Linked DNA regions of Homo sapiens. The protein of the gene in region 3 interacts with the protein of the main gene of each other region in a biochemical or structural test. Each region holds a gene or a part of one and is shown on either strand. Other genes may lie near its edges.

Region 1 (7,000 bases), on a different chromosome or scaffold from region 3:
ATAACTCTCACAGTAAAACCCACTAATACTTGAAGGTCATTCTTTTTTTACCTTGTAAGACATTTTACATCATCATCTGCTGCTTGGTTTGATGTTCCCATAACCCAGTCTGTCAGGTATTCTACCATCTTATTCCTATAGAATGGTGGAGAAAAGAGAAACAGCAAACAATGTTTTTGAAGCCACACACACACCTTTAGTCACGTAAGATTTCTTATAGTGCAAATAATTTGCCAGATAACCTAAGTGACATGACGACTTTATAAAAGAGATACTGCTATCACAGACATAAAAGCCAGAAGGGAACAAGCAACATGGATATTTATCCTCCATCATGGCCCTTAGTTATGGTATCAGATTGGAAATAGAATCAAATTCTTAGCTCAAGTATAGCACAGTTTTAGAAAAAGGGAGCATTGTCACAGGCACAAAGCTTAGGGAAATTTGAGAAGAGATGTAGAGAAAAACAAACATGTAAATTGCTCTCTTTTCATGTCCTCCTTTCTACCAATAACCGCATATCTACTCTTTTTCTGTACTTCATTGGACATATTAAGATTTACAAGACCCTACATTGCTCTTTTGAGAACTCACCTAAATTTCATCTCTTGGCAAAATGAGAGGTCATCTCTCCTTGCCATCATTACTTCAACTAATTGACACAGTTTCGTTTTTATTTGAATTGCATGGACCATATTCCCAAGCACACGAACATACCTATATAGACATAGAAACAATAAAAAAATTATCAGATATAGACAAAAGAGAAGGCATTCTAAATACTTTAGTCATCAAGTAAAACGAATTAAATGTAAGTTTGAAAACAATAAGATATTTATTTAGAAAAGAACGTACACAACTTCTGGCTACCTTACTGTCACACCCTAGTTTGTGTGCAGTAAAGAATGGCCAGTTATTTTATCAATTACTACCAGTATCAGTGTGTAAGAGGTTTTTCTTATCTCTTAAAATGTTTCTGCTACATTTCAGTAGAATGCTTACCTGACCAGATTTAACATCATTGTTTCAATGCTAGCTTGCCCTAGATGTTCAGAGCTGCCTTCAGTATGATTATCTAGCAAGTTCTTCATTATAGCTATGGTTTGTTCTACAAATTGAGTATTGGTATCAGTCAATAAAACCTAAAGAAAGAACAAATACATTAATGATTTGCCATCAATGCCCAGAAGACAGACCCCCTAGAGAGATGAAACTGACTGATCTAAACACACAGAGTAAGTGCACCCACAGGCATAGAGCCAAATAAGCATACAGATATACGCAGACACTCGTACCCATACACAGGGCACGTATACCCTTAGGCACACATACACACCAGAGTTCCTAAGAGGCAAGCTGACCCCTACATTGAGATGACTCTTCTTTCTGCAATTTTTTGGAAATTTTTAAAAACTGTGAGTACCTAATTTAAATAATCTGAAAGAAAAAGGCTTATTTCAAACAAGTCACTCTATTCATAGAGAAAGGTGAAAAATAAGAGAACACTTTACCTGTCCTTGGGAGTCAAAAAACTTGCTGATGGTATTCTTCAATTTGTTAAATAGCATTGGATACAGAGCAGGACTCAATTCTAGACCCACCAGATCCTTAACATTGGTCCGTATTTGAAGTCCCACTTTCTCATGGTTACACACCATTAAGGACAACAGCCGATCCATAAATTTGCTGACAGGTGTATCTGCGTTTCCCTCTGAAGACATCACTGAAATCATAGAACCCTTACGTTCACTGACTGGACCCATGGGTGGGCTATAGGTTGCCAGGCCAGAATTGCTTCTCTGCTGGAGGCACACTCCCCCAAGGGCACAAAGGAAGCCAGTCATGTTGATCCATTCCTGTAGGGAGTCTGTGTCAGACAAATCTATGGATCCTCCTCCACTCACATGGGACATTCGCCTCTTAACAATGGTCTTGTGAAGGCTTTCAGCAGCCTAAACACAAAATTTTTGTGCAAAGCATGAATTAAACCTTAATTAGTTGAGACTTGACAAATTATGCTTTATCCAACATTTCTTCCATGACAAAAGTACAAAAAATGTAAAATATACATTAAAATCAACCCATAAAATTACCATATACATTTTTAAAGAGCCACTGATCTATTTTTATCATACACTAATATAATCAGCCGAGTGTCAAATTTCTTTTAAAAAGTTTTGATTTCACATGGATGAACCTTGGAAACATCATGCTAAGTGAAAGAAGCTAATCACAAAAGCCCACATATTCTATAATTCCATTTACAGAATATATCCGGAATAGGCAAATCTACAAAGACAGAAAGTAGATTCATGGTTGCCTAGGGCTAGAGACGTTGGGGGAAGAGAGGCAAGAAAGTGGGTGGGGGGTGGTTAGAGGCAGAGATAGCTAAAGGGTACGGGGTTTTTTTCTCAATTGATGAAATTGTTCTAAAACTTGATTGTGGTGATGGTTGCACAACTCTGTGAATACATTAAAAACAGTCACTGAATTGGACACTTTAAATGGGTGAACTGTATGGTATGTAATTATATAAAACAGTTATCCCCCCAAAAGCTTTCATTCTAAAGCTACATGTCCCCTCCAAATAAAGGTATTAGGTACACACATTTGCTTCGTAAAAATATAACTTTTTCCTATTGTAATTAAGCATGACAAAAACACCATGGAGGAACAACCAGTTTTTATAAATCACCTAATAATGAGAGCAATATGAACATTACAAATCAAATACACACAAACACTAACTGATCATTAATTTCCAAAGTAACAGATAATATAGTCAATAGTAATAGTTGAATGAACTGTCCACATTTTAAAATTTCATTTACTCTATGGGATCAATCTACTGCCTAAGACATTCCTTAATTAGAATACCTAACAAAATAGCAAAATGAATTGTTTCCATGTTAATTTATCTCTACCTCTGTTGCTCCTTTTCTGAAAATTCTGTGAAACACCCTGATGAAGGGAGAAAGAGCAAGAAAAGGTAAAGAAATGGTCTCTGCAACAAACAGTCTCTAGCAGTGCTGCCCAGTATTTCTGTGATGACAGGAACATTTTCTCTCTCTGCTGTCCAATAGAGTAAGTAATTGTCATATGTGGCTACTGGTACTTGCGATGTGGTTACTATATGATTGAGGAACTAAATTTTATTTAATTTTAATTATGTTAAAATTTAAGTTAAATAGTCACACATAGCTAGTAGCTACCACATTACAAAGTACAGGTCTAGATAAACCACAACTAAATATCAGTCTTCACACAGCTATATGTTTACTTTACTGAGCGACTCTTGAAAGATTATCAAAGTGAAGTACATATATTTAGCAGATCAGTTAACAGACAAAAGTCAACTTTACAGACTTACCTGGCCATCTTCCATTTTGGCTTTTGGATAGTTAAGGATTAGCTTTGTTGCTTGTTCCCATTTTGCATGTGTATCTTCCCAAGCCTAAAATGAAGGCAATTATCACTTGAAAGCAACTTAGTCTAGAGCTAAACATCAATCAGCTACAGCCAAGTTTCAAACTTGATGTATATTAAATACTCAGATATTATACTTGTAATATGCACGTATCTTGGATTTACTTCAAAAGCTATTCCTGATCACACATATGTAACAAGAGGCTTCCAAATTGAGGGTGGGCGCCTGGGAGGGGTGTTTCTGTTGCTAAGGGCATACCTCAGTGTTTCCTGCAGTGGGATGCTCAATGCGCCTCAGCAGTGCCATCACTCTTTTCTGAAGTGCTGCTCTTCCTAAGCAAATACAACAGCAAATCAAGTTACTGCACTTAGAGCCCTGCCTGCCAATGGAGAACCTGATAAGCTCCACCCAAAAGGAGTAGGAAGAGCAGAGCAAATGCTTCAAATGATAAAGCCAAAAACTTCCTTTCACTAACCTCACAGGAAAGGTACTTATCTTGGACTCTACAATGTCCACAGAATAAAATAGCTATTCCCACCTACAATTTACTCAAAACATACGCCAATGTTTGTAAAACTTCACTATCTACAACTTAGGCAGAGTAAATTACATAATCATAACTGATAGTAACATCTACTGCCAGTTATTTTTAAAATGTATAGCATATTAACAACTCAGTGGAAGACTAACAATTTATTTCAAATGCTTTTTATTTTCATCTTACTTTGTTCAGAAAAGGATTTCAAGTAAGCTACTTGAATTTCCCCTGTAAACTTACAAAGTAGTGACCTTAAATACATTCTCAAAATCAGATGCCATGTGCTTTGAGGCAGACTGAGTAAAAAAAACCACTATTCACATTTACCTGTTGACATCATATTGCTGACAGAGGCAAACTCCATGAATGTGTTATAGTTGGGCAAGAGGTTATGCACTGACACTTCATCCACCCCACACCGGATATCTGCTTCCTCACAGAGGTGGCGGAAACAGGACATGGCAACCAGAACAGCTTCAGTGTCAGGGTTCCACAGAAACATGTACAGGGCCACTTCTAGTTTGGTCTGGGCTTGTCGGCAAATCGGGGGGGTTCCGCTGCATCCTGCTGCACTATCCTGAGAGTCAAGGGTGGAAGACATATATTTGCAACTTGGGTAATTTTATGTATAAAATCTAACAATGCAATAAACTGTGTGTGTGTGTGTGTGTGTGTGTGTGTGTGTGTGTGTGTCTCCGCATACAATAACTCACAAGAGCTTTTTCCTTTAATCATTATAGGAATTTTTCAAACCCCAAAATATCTTGTCCAAATGAGAAATGAGATTATCTGGACCAACATAATGCTACCATCTGTTCAATTTCAAATCAAATAGATATTATCCTATTCCAGATTCCAGAAATGTAAACTGATTCTAACATGGACAGGTAAACACCATAACGTAAATCTACTGCAGTAACAATATAATGTACCTCCCAGTCAATTAGAAATGACAAAAAAAGAGGAAGTAACAGGAAATTCTATCTACTTGCTATAGGGAAGTAATAAAATAAGTACACTGCAGCACTCATTGAAACAAGGGCATAAACAAGAACTAAATATTGCTGTAGAAGATACATTTGATTCTGAATTACTTATTCTCCAAACACGAAATGGAGAAAATAATTGATAAAATAAATGCAAATTCTACAAGTAAAACAGACATTAGTAAATATCATACTGCTTAGGTGTTTCTTCCTTAACAAGGTTGCATTAAAAATTAGGAATGAAAAAAGTTTTGGTTTGGAAAATAAACTCTTCTGTAATGATGTGATATTTTCACTTGAAATATGATTTATATTTAAAAGAAATTATACACACAAACACAAATCACAGAAACACTTATCTTTAACATGAAGCAAAATACTTTGTTTTTATCCCTGTAAATCTGTACCTTTGTTAGCCGGTACGAATTCTATACTTCTGTGGTATGAATGGGTTTTTTATGGAGTGGAGGTTTATAATAATTATAATTATCAGATATAGCTTGTAAGTGTCAAGTGCTATTTACACATCCTTTTATTTAACCCTCTTTAACAACTCTGGGGCAGGAACTATTACTGTCCCCATTTTAAAGTTGAGGAACTGAGGAACAAGGATGTTAAGAACTTGCCCAAAGTTCCACAAAGAGCAGTAATAGAACTAGATTCTAAGCAGTTTTTCACTATTACACTATATTACCTAGATGAAATTTACCAAATTTCATTCAGAAAACAAACAGAGCACATAAAATGATACAGAAAAAGTACAGAAGAAGCTGACCATAGAGGAGTTCCCTTTTCCCTTCCGGAGAGAGGCTCCAGGAGTACGTAGTAATTCTTCATGATCCATGGACATTTGACTGGTATTTCCACTAGAAGGAATATCACATCCTACCCCGTAAAAAAGGAGAAAGTGACAGGAACTTCTATCTGCCTGCTAGAAAAAAATAAATAAATAAGCTTTACTGAAGCACTGACAACCAAGAGGAATAAACACTTATTTGAGTTGTCTTCCTGTTTGAGACTCTCCTAAAAAACCTCTCCTCTCAATCTCTATGCCCCAACTTGAAGGAGATTCACTAGAAACCCATTAGAACAAACAAGGTTTACTTAATTCTTTAAAATTTCTTTCAGTTTCCCATTCTCTAAATCATCAGAAACAGTAGATTCTACAAATATAAATTAAGTCTGACATAAACATGAGTAAAACATCAACAATATAAATCTACTGTATGAAAACTATAATTTGATCTCAATGACAAAGATTTTTTTTCCATAAGATTTTATACTGTGCCATGTTGGGATAACCAGAAATTGGCTCTTGAGATTAAGTTCTTCTGGACCAGTAATTAACTCTGGTATGTATATACACCAAGTATGTCACAAGAGTGACTATGCCTACCAGGGCACTATGAATTCATTACTGGATTCCTCATACTCACATTCTGGAGATTATACCATAGGCGAGGCCATGAAAGTCTGAAGTCTAATCTCTTTCTGTATCTTTGGAATAATGCCAAATTCCACTACATTAACATATCAAATAAGTCACATGTGAATAAACCCACTTCACCATTAGTCTATTTCTAAAGAGACAATTTATTAATAACAAGCTGTAAATACTGAAAAGGATATGAGTTTCATACATTTAAGGTCTTTCACAGCTATGCTTCTAGTACCAGATAAAAACTCATTAAATCAAGTACTCCGAAAACTAGGCCATAACAGAATTCCTAAATTGATTAATTACAGAAACTATATGTTAAAAGAAATTTAAGGCTCTTCTCTATCTTCCACAACCTCACCATGTTTCAATAGTTCAGAATCAAAACATTTCACTCCACCCCAATGAAAAAGTCTCCTGATATTTTCAAGAGGTGAAACCCTTATTGGAGGAATCGAAATAAATCTAGATTGAGGACCCTCAACTGTTTCCCTTTTGCTTCTTGATAGATAATTCTCTGGACTAGTCTAGCCATGAGATCTAGGTCTTTACGATTTCTCAGAGCTATGATTCTAGAACTGGACAAAAACCCATTAAATCAAGTACTCCCA
Region 2 (7,000 bases), on a different chromosome or scaffold from region 3:
AGGCTGCCCCTTCACAGGCAGAGGGGTTCCACTGTGGTCCTTTTCTTCCTTCTGGGCCCATGGGGTCTGCACGGCCGTCAGCGCCAACCTGAGAAAGCACCGAAGACCTTGTCTTGCATTGGCCTCCGGGCTCCCCTCACCACCCTCTCCACACGAATGATGAATGTACCATTTTGTCAAAGCACCCAGAAGGTTCTCTTCAGTTTTCTTTGATTTTGCAAAATATAAATCCAAAAGGCATTGAGTCGTTTAATATTGAACACTTGAGTGGATTTGAGTACAAACTCGGGGTCCTCCCAGAACTCACAGCCCCTGTCAGGGCTTCTGTGGCGAGCTTGCTCTTTGGCAGGGGAGTCTCCTGTGTTCCCAGTAGCTCCCAGCTTGCTTGCCCGCTGCAGCACGGGCTGCTTTCAGGCACCAGGACCTCTCTGGCACCGGCTCACTGTCCAGCACATCAGAGAGGTAGCCACACACAAGCTGCGGGCCCTCAGTTGCTGGGCTTTGTGACATAGGAGTCACGCCTGCCTCCTTGAGGATGGTGAGCACCCAGTGAGGAAGCACTGCCAGGCATCCTGGCTCACGGCCCATCCCTCAGTGAGCTTGCCACCATGCGGCTGCAGGCGGTGAGCGTCAGTGATGATAATCGTTCCCTGCATGATTTCTAACACACAGTGTTGGCTTTTCCTAACCCAGCATTCAACACCCTCCTCAATGCTTTGGCCACGTGCCTGTACTAATCTCGGAAAGTGGTTGTGTTCCCAAGGTGTCGTATGCTCGCCCGAGCTCAGAGGTGATCAAAGACGCCAACTTGTACATCAGCGGGCTCCCGCGGACCATGACCCAGAAGGACGTAGAAGACATGTTCTCTCGGTTTGGGCGGATCATCAACTCGCGGGTCCTCGTGGATCAGACTACAGGTACCAGAGGGGCCCCAGACGCGTGGGGAGGGTGTTCTCTAGGTGGGGGCTGGGTTTTCTAGGGAAGGCAGATCACCGTTTGATTTTAAATGTCATTAGTTATTCCGCAAACGAGGACAGCACCAAAATGAGAAGACGTTGGCTTTGGTTTGAGGAGGCTGAGGAGGTAAGATGGCATTAAAAGAAGCTGGGGATATCTGGGCGTGGTGGCTCACGCCTGTAATCCCAGCACTTTGGGAGGCCAAGGTGGGTGGATCACGAGGTCAGGAGATGGAGACCAGCCTGACCAACATGGTGAAACCCTGTCTCTACTAAAAATACAAAAAATTAGCTGGGCATGGTGGCGGGCGCCTGTAGTCCCAGCTACTCGGGAGGCTGAGACAGGAGAATGGCATGAACCCGGGAAGCGGAGGTTGCAGTGAGCCGAGGTCTTGCCACTGCACTCCAGCGTGGGTGACAGAGCGAGACTCCGTCTTAAAAAAAAAAAAAAAAAAAGCTGGGGATTAGGCCAGCATTTCATGTACAGTGAAAACGCCAAGAGATTCTAGCACCTTCCCTCAGGCACCCAAATGTGCTGGCCTTGCCCATGAATGGGGTGAAAAGGACACTGCAGGCCGGGTGTGGTGGCTCACGCCTGTAATCCCAGCACTTTGGGAGGCCGAGGTGGACGGATCACCTGAGGTCAGGAGTTTGAGACCAGCCTGGCCAACATGGTGAAGCCCCATCTCTACTAAAAATACAAAAATTAGCCAGGTGTGGTGGCAGGCGCCTGTAATCCCAGCTACTCGGGAGGCTGAGGCAGGAGAATCGCCTGGACCCCAGGAGGCGGAGATTGCAGCAAGCCGAGATTGCGCCACTGAACTCCAGCCTGGGCAGCAGAGCGGGATTTCATCTCAAAAAAAAAAAAAAAAAAAAAAAAAAAAAGGATACTGCAGCCAGGTGCGGTGGCGCGGGCATGTCATCACAGCTGCTCAGGAGACTGAGGTGGGAGGATTGCTTGAGCCCAGGAGTTCACAGCTGTGGTGAGCCGTGATCGCGCCACTACACTTCAGCCTGGGCAACAGAGCAAGACCCTGTTTCTTAAAAAAAAAGAAAAAGAAAAAAAAAGGCTGCTGCACATTTGTCCACTGTGGCTTTCGTTGCAGGCATTTGGGGTGCAGTAGTCTGATGGCCCAAATCCCCAGAATTCGGATGCCCCTCTCTGGGGAGCACATCTAAAGTGCACAGAGCACATGGCAGCGAATTCCTCTAATGGGCAGGCAATCCTGGCCACTTTGCTGGCCCTCCCAGTCCGTCTTGGCACTGGATGTGGGCTCTGGGCTTTGTGTGATGCCGTCAGGCAGAGATGAGCAGGGGACATGTGCACGCCCACGGCTGTGCTCCGGCCCTACTGCCTGGCCCGCCTGCCGCACTAGGCTAGGAACTAGTGCCCCACCACATCCTTTGCCAAGCCCTGCACGTGGCCCCGCCTGGGGGACAGGGAGCTCGGGCCACCCTGAGGGGATTTAGGATCGCTCAGCTCTGTTTGGGGCAGGAGCAGGAGTCTGCTAACTAACCAGCAGGGAAGAATCCACTCCCTGAGCCTAGTGAGGCCCATGCGTTGTATGGGTGGTTTTCATATTCTTCCCACACAGACTGTGTGTGCCGCACCTTGGCTGTGATGTTGAAATAACACCGAGTAGTTGGGCCACAGAAAGTCATGCTCTGAGGTGACCTCTTTTTGAGAGAACAGCAGCACTCCCCCAGCAGCCCAGAGCCTCGCCTTTCATGTGCACACAGGTGGGGCCTTCCTGGCCTGCAGGCTAGAGGGGCATGCACATTGTCCTGCGTCCCCTGAGCTGCGTGCTTTGGGGTGGGCGGCCTTATCAGTCTCTCTTCCTCCTCCTTTCCGGCTGTAGGAACCCCACCTGGCATGCACTGGCCCTGCCGCTGCCGGCCTTCGTTCCCGCTGGGGCCCGAGGAGGGGAAGGGCCCCTTTGCACTTCATGGGGGCCCTGGGAGCTTCCTGTAGCCTAGCACAGACTCGCGCCCTGGCACCGGGCAGTGCCGAAGGACAGGGCTCACTCGCACGGCCGCCGCCATTCTGCCTTTGCTCTGGGGAGAGGGTCGGGGGATGCCAGTTACTCGGTGTAAACTCCCCTGGTCTGCACCAGAAGAGTCTCCTGTGGTCCCTGAAGTCCTCTCACTTAAGTGCCAGCTGAGCGAATGATCCTGTCAGTGGGCCAGTGTGTGGGTTTATTGCCCCCCATTCTGCACTGGGGCATCTGAGCTGGCTGTGCAGGGCCCAGGGCCGGGGGAACCAACCTCACTGGCCCACAGTCCACTCCCCTCCTCCTCTAGACCCCACATGCACTGCTCTGCCTCGGCCTGTCTGTGTCCAGTATGGCCCTGATGAGGGAAGCCTGTGCTCCACTTGGAGCCCCCAATGCCTGAGAACATGCCTCCAGCCACCCAACTCTCTTGGGGCCTTCCCTAGTCTCTCAGGCACACACGGGCCACAGGCAGGGGGAACTCACCTCTGCACACAGCTGCTGGGGGCATTGCTTCCTTTCCCTCTGCAAGATAGTGTCTCCCAGGGTGTTGGGGGCACCTTAGTATTGCGCCCCCAGGGTCGGCTGTGAACCTCAAGGTGGCCTAAGGAACCTTTGTCATCTTTGCAGAGCAGTGAGGGAGGCAGAGAGAAGGGAGCCAGGAGGGTCTCCCGGCTCTGCTTCCCACCCCAGGATGCAGAATTGGTGGGAAGGTGAGGCTCCCATCCCAGGGCTGTAGCTCCCTCTGCTGGAGACAGAGTGTGTGTGGCAGGCCAGCCTGTGTGGAGTTTGCCTTCCTGTGACGGGCTTTTTAGTGTTAAATAGATGAGGATGGCCGGGCGCGGTGGCTCACGCCTGTAATCCTAATACTTTGGGAGGCCAAGGTGGGAGGATTGCTTGAGCCCAGGAGTTCAGAACAGCCTGGCCAACATAGCGAGACCCCCAACTCTTTTTTTAAAAAAAGAGAAAAAAAATCCCACCCTGAGCTGACAGAGCTTAATTTTTTGTATTCCTTCGCTTCTATATCCACCTTAATTGTGAACTTTATAGTGTATTCATCTGGAGATTATGCCGTTTCTTGGACTCTGCTGTTAAATTCTAAAAAACACAAGGGGGCCGGGGGCCGTGGCTCACGCCTGTAATCCCAGCATTTTGGGAGGCCAAGGTGGGTGGATCACCTGAGGTCAGCAGTTCGAGACCTGCCTGGCCAACATGGCAAACCCCATCTGTACTAAAAATAGGCCGGGCACGGTGGCTTATGCCTGTAATCCCAGCACTTTGGGAGGCCAAGGTGGGCGGATCACGAGGTCGAGAGGTCGAGACCATCCTGGCCAACATGGTGAAACCCCGTCTCCACTAAAAATACAAAAACTTAGCCAGGCATGGTGGCAGGCACCTGTAATCCCAGCTACTGGGGAGGCTGAGGCAGGAGTATCGTTTGAACCTGGGAGGCGGAGGTTGCAGTGAGCCGAGATTGCACCATTGCACTCCAGCCTGGGCAAAAAGAGCGAAACTCCATCTCTAAATAAATAAATAAAGTAAAATAAAATAAAAATTAGCCAGGCATGGTGGCAGGCGCCTGGAGTCCCACCTACTCGGGAGGCTGAAGCAGGAGAATCACTTGAACCGGGGAGGTGGAGGTTGCAGTGAGCTGAGATCGTGCCATTGTACTCCAGCCTGGGCGACAGAGCGAGACTCCATCTTAAAAAAAAAATTAAAAATAAAAAACACTAGGGGAAGAAAAAAACAAAAAATGCAGAGCCATCTTCAGAAAGTATACATCCATTAAATAATTGAGTGAATTGATATCCCCCTCTGCTAAACAGCATCCCTCCTGCCCCCCTTACTAGAGCTTTCTTCCTTTCACTCAGGCAGTTTGCATTTGAAAGCCACTCTACAACCCCAGACGAGGAAGCCACACTTGCACACGTGCCTTCTCTCCGCTGGGCCGCAGGGTCTTTAGAAACAGAATGAAGCCATCTGCTTGGAGCCAGCTTCCCTACGAGCCGGCCAGCGTCAGCTCTCAGTCGTATTTGCCTAAAGTTCGATTTTCATTTAGGTTTCCAAGACTGACTAAGCTGTCATTCGTGTCGTGAGAGACTCAAAGAAAACAGCATCTGTCAGGGTTGTGTTTTCAGGTGTTCCTTCTGAGCAGCAGCTCAGAAATGAGCTTGAGCCCCAGAATATTCCTGGCACGTGTGCGTAGCGCTAGGTCTGACCTTACTAAAGCTGCTGTCTCTGTGCTCACGGGGGGCCTGCAGTGTCGCGATTGTGGGGGCAGCTGGCGGGACCCTCTGGGAAGTGGTGGAGTAAGGTGCCGTGTGAGGCGTGGAGACAGGACATGGGGACAGTTGGGTGCCCGCTGGACAGGTCACCCAAGGCCCCGGGCTGCCTGGCTTTGGTCGTTGTTTGTTACCATGCACCAGAGGCCTTTGCCTGGAGAAGAAACCTGACTTAAGACACCCTTTGACTGGAAGTCTTTCTTTTTCCTTAAGAGGTGAGATCTTACTGTGTTGTCCAGGCTGGTCTTGAACTCCTGGCCTCAGGCGATTCTCTTGCCTCAGCCTCTGGAGTAGTTGAGACCACAGGCATGAGCCTTGGCCTGGCTTGACTAAAAGTCTTGAGAACCAGGGTGTTTGGGTTGGGCTGTCTGTGACGGCCTCTCCCACTGGGACACACCCGTGACTCCCGCCTAGTGATGTCACTCTCAGACTGGCCTCTCAGCTGTCACCTCTCCCACCCCTGGGCCTTCCCCTGACTCCATCATGTCCTTGCCCCCAGAGAAGGAGCTAGTGCGCTGCTCAGTGTGCCCTCATCCCCATCCCCCTCATCCAGTTTCCAGCCCGCTTCCCAGGTTCCTCAAGGGACGGGCTACTCATGTTTCCCTCCCGGGCCTAGTGTATGGACAGGCAGGGGTGCAGGACAGCCATGCTCTCCTTCCACCCGCCTTGCTCAGCATCTCACACCCATGCCCAGCTGACCAATGTCCCCCATAGCAGGACGGTCCTCAGGTCTCACACTGCTCCGTCCAGGGATTGGGTTTAGCCGGGAACCCGGGACTGGCCCTTGGGTGGCTCAGTTGAGGTGGCAAGAGAAGATGCCCTCTGGGCTTGGCTGCTGGGGCCCTGGCCCTTCCCATACAGGGACCCCAGGCCTGCCTGGCGAGCCTGTGGATAGGTTCAGCTCTGCTGTATGAGCCTGGGCAGTGTTCTGGCCTCATTTGATTCTGATGGCAATTTGGGGCCCACGGGAGGGGTGTAGGACCTTAGAGTGGAGTATCCCAAGACAGGAGTGAGGTGACAGCAGCAGCATGGAGCTGGCAGGGGGTGGCCACAGGACCCTACTCCCTCCTGGCATGAAGGAGAAGGCATGCAGGCTGAGCTGGGCACCTTTGCAGCAGGCTCGGCCACGAGGCCTGCTGTCACAGCGGGCCCAGAGACAGCAGCCAGGAGAGTGGCCCCTGAGCCCAGGGAGGATCTCTCAGACGCAGTCCCCACTCCAACCCTGTTACCCACCAACCACACACCACACCCACGCACCCACTCTGTGGCGGACACCTGGCAGCTAAATAGTGACGGTGGATGTGCTGTTTCCTAATGTTGCTTTCTTCCAAATAAGAGGCCTGGGTGTCTATTGGGGATGTCTGTCACCAAAATATCTTTGGGCGCCAACACTGTGGAGTCATGGCTTCAGCCGGGAAGAAAGTCTGAAGCTTTAATCTTCTGTTAGTCATTGGTTTTCTTTACTCCATCCATTTGTTTTCACTTTTAGGTTTAATTTTTGTTTATTTCCTTAACCAGACTTCTAGCCTGGCCCACAGTAGACTGACCTGACTTTTGCTTTTCAGTTTTGAAAGTCCTAGCGTTTTTCCCCCTAACTCCGTTTTTGTTGATTTGTTGAAAAGGTTTGTCCAGAGGGGTTGCGTTTATCCGGTTTGACAAACGGTCGGAGGCAGAAGAGGCAATTACCAGTTTCAATGGTCATAAACCCCCAGGTTCCTCTGAGCCCATCACAGTGAAGTTTGCAGCCAACCCCAACCAGAACAAAAACGTG
Region 3 (3,190 bases):
TTGCAAGGACACAAGTTGGTTCCAACAAAAGTGACAAATTCCTTAAGAAAATGTTATTCCAAGAAAATATTCTTACAAAATACACTCCCATAGAAGGGGAACAAACACTTAATGACATCTACATATCAGGAGCCTCATATACATTTACTTGATTGAATCTATAAACCTATCCTGAGGTGGACGGCATTATCTTCATTTATAGCTGGGGAAATTCAAGTTCAGGGAAGCTAGAGAATTTGCCCGAGGTTGCAAACCTGACAAACTAGAGAGCCCAAATTTGAACCCAGGCCTGTCTGCTCTCTCTCTCCATCATACTAAGTTGCTATTTTTCCACAGGGATACAACAGAGAAGACCTAACTCCATCCTTCTCTTTGACTCTCCCTTCCTTCTTGGCAATGCCATGCCATGCTGTTCCCTCCCGGTGTTTTTCAACCTCTCCTTCACACATAGAAAATTATCTACCACATCGGTCCCACACAGAAAGATCCACAGCCTGTTATGAAGTTTTTGCTATAAAACATTTAATGTTAACCTACAATACAATGTAAACTTTTATGAAAAAAATTTAAAGTACACTAGATTTCTTCAGTAAATTATCACATGACTATTCAGGCGCAGTACAAGTTGGGGCACTGCATCCTTTGTGGATGGATTTCCGTTGCTGTGTTCCTCACAAGTCCTAAAAAAACCAGTTGTAGAGCGGAGCTCCTTGTTCAAGCACCGGATAATGATGCCCCTGATTTTGCATTCTGGGGGTTATCGCTCCTTCTCAGTCATTTTCTGAAACTCTTTGCTTGGCCTTGGCACCATTAGCAATTTTCACAACTGCTCAATTGAAGGTTCTAGGTTCTTTTTAGCTTAGTTTTTAAGAGACAAGTGTTATCCTCTGGCCATCTCTTATTCAAATATCATGGTGGAGGCAAGCAAGGAGAAAGAAGTATTTGCTAGAGGAAATTCTGCAGAAGTGGAAGAAAAGACCAGAAGGGCTCCACTGAGGGTACAAATATTCAACTGACTCCAATCGAGTGTCTTTGCTTGGTCACTTCCCATGGTTATTCAGCTCAATCTACAACTTCAGTCGTGGGAGTGCAGAACAAAACTTGAAACAAGTGCTTTTAGTTGATGATTTGCCATTTGGAAACAACAGCTGAAATATCCCAGAGGTGATGTGGAAACAAGAGCAAATGCTTGCAGATCACTGGCTTCTCAGTGTCTTCTCCCTCGCAGGTCTCATCAAAATCCCAAAAGTCCTTAGGAGTAACACAGATTGTACTGGCATTAAGTGACAAAATGTGCAGCCTGTATTTGACTGAGGAGGAAAGGAAATGGCACCTAGGCAGCAGCGCTAGGGTCAGCAAGGAGACCGGCCTAGGGTCTCAGTAAAGCAGAACTGTTTCAAATGGGACTAGACCGGGGCATGTGCTTCCGGTGAATCCTCTTGAAACCTAAAGTAAATGGGAAGGCCGCCCTAACAGTTGTACTGACATAAAGGGAGACCCTTCTTAATATTCTGGCAGCTGACTTCCTTCACTGAACAACTATTATCAAAAGGCGAGAGGCATAAAGTGCACACTGTAGAATAAGAAGAGACTGAATTATGATGGAAAAAAAAAATCGTAACTTCCCCAAAGAGGTGTGGACAGTGTACCTAGCCTCACAAAGGTCCTTAATACCCTCCTGTGTGCTGCCAGGGAACAGCTGTGAATTCCAGATGGGGAGGAAGGCTCTGACTTAAGTGGAAAAATTCCTCTGCATGGTTGTCAGCAGGAAGGTTTCACGTAAGGTTATCCTTATGTGGAGAACATGGGTTATCCTGCTGTTCACGCCAGATACATTTTATTGACAGCAGTCAGATGGTGATTCCACTCATCTGGCCTTGGGACAGCAGAAAACGAAGTGGAAGAACAATAGCTGGCCAGGGACAGAATTAAATTTTCCTAGAGATGGTGTTCTAGACAGCTATGCCAAGGCCACTGGGAATTTCTCAGGCTCTCCAAGTTAATTTCTGTGGGGTGCCTTACTCTGCCATGTGGGATTTACCCCAACAACTGAGGACTGCAGTGGATAGTAACCATATAATTGCTACCAAAAACAGTGGTCCTTAGGTTTTAGTTAAGCAAGAGAGAAAGCCTTGAGACTACAACTCCAGCAAGTTAGGCTTTATGTTGATCTGAACCCCCCGCCCTCACAGCATTCTAGGAACTACAGTAACGTCAGTCGGTTGCAGTGGTACAACGAGCCTGCACCAGTCTAGCTACAGAACACTTTGGAATACTTGTCAGAGCGCACTGGCATCTGTTAATACATGGCCTGACCCATGTACCCATTACCATAAACTCAACCACAGACGAGACATCCAGAGGTTAAAAAAAACCCTATTACTTCAACATAGCAATAGAGAGAAAGGATAAAAGCTGCCTCCAGAAGGTGGCTGCATCAGAAATGAAAATGTGCCTTCCAATAGATTACACAGGCTGGGAGTTCTGTCTTGGCTCCCTTCAAGGCCTCTGGTTCTATCCTTAAAACAATAATACACTTCCACTGAGACAGGCAGGGCACTCTCCTGTGGTTCTGCTGGCTCCACCACAGGCCCTGCTAGTCCTTTGGAAAGGCACCAGGCTTGGCAATTCAGGAAAGCCCAGGGCTGGGGGGAGCAGCATGCACATGTCAGAAGAGGAATGAAGAGCTGCTATCCTTTGGTTCAGACCCCATAACCACCACCTGGTACAGACTCCAAGGAAAAGCTGCAGTTGTGTGTAAAGGTGAGTTCCACCACATACATAGGTGTATCTTTACATATACAGCCTTTGTGGGGCCACAAACCCAGATTTCCTCCCACTGCTCCAAGTGGGGTGCACAGGTGGTAAGAAAGGACAGCAAGAGTTGGACCAAAAAGAATGACCTCTCTGGGAACGTGAGAGGGACAATGGCAGAAATAAGCACAAACCAGCCCGGGGCACTTTTATTACACTATTGTGGGCTAAGGAGCCCAGGGCATAAACTCATGGGTTTAAAGAATTGGCTCTTTATCAAATAAAGGAAAAAAATATATATATATACCTATGTCAGCCTCATTCCTTTGGTCATTACAAAACAGAAATAAAAGTTATTGAAAACTTGTGGGCAGTTCAAGGAACATCTCTGCTTCTCTGCTCTGTGCTTTCTCTTCCCTCTCTTCCCCAGAGGCAG

What was found. Proteins that work in one complex are often made in the same cells at the same time.
Region 1: the proteins of FAF2 (region 3) and NF1 form a complex in vitro, tested with the Homo sapiens proteins (one study listed by BioGRID).
Region 2: the proteins of FAF2 (region 3) and ELAVL1 form a complex in vitro, tested with the Homo sapiens proteins (one study listed by BioGRID).

The regions. Positions count from the first base shown.
Region 1 is NC_000017.11:31,223,977-31,230,976, reverse strand, and holds part of NF1 (neurofibromin), read right to left. Parts: intron 5,883-7,000; coding exon 5,727-5,882; intron 4,543-5,726; coding exon 4,293-4,542; intron 3,760-4,292; coding exon 3,686-3,759; intron 3,455-3,685; coding exon 3,371-3,454; intron 1,953-3,370; coding exon 1,512-1,952; intron 1,143-1,511; coding exon 1,003-1,142; intron 718-1,002; coding exon 595-717; intron 136-594; coding exon 52-135; intron 1-51. UniProt on the Homo sapiens protein: Stimulates the GTPase activity of Ras. NF1 shows greater affinity for Ras GAP, but lower specific activity. May be a regulator of Ras activity.
Region 2 is NC_000019.10:7,967,642-7,974,641, reverse strand, and holds part of ELAVL1 (ELAV-like protein 1), read left to right. Parts: intron 1-763; coding exon 764-917; intron 918-6,851; coding exon 6,852-7,000. UniProt on the Homo sapiens protein: RNA-binding protein that binds to the 3'-UTR region of mRNAs and increases their stability.
Region 3 is NC_000005.10:176,507,385-176,510,574, reverse strand, and holds the end of FAF2 (FAS-associated factor 2), read right to left. Parts: 3' UTR 501-3,190; downstream 1-500. UniProt on the Homo sapiens protein: Plays an important role in endoplasmic reticulum-associated degradation (ERAD) that mediates ubiquitin-dependent degradation of misfolded endoplasmic reticulum proteins.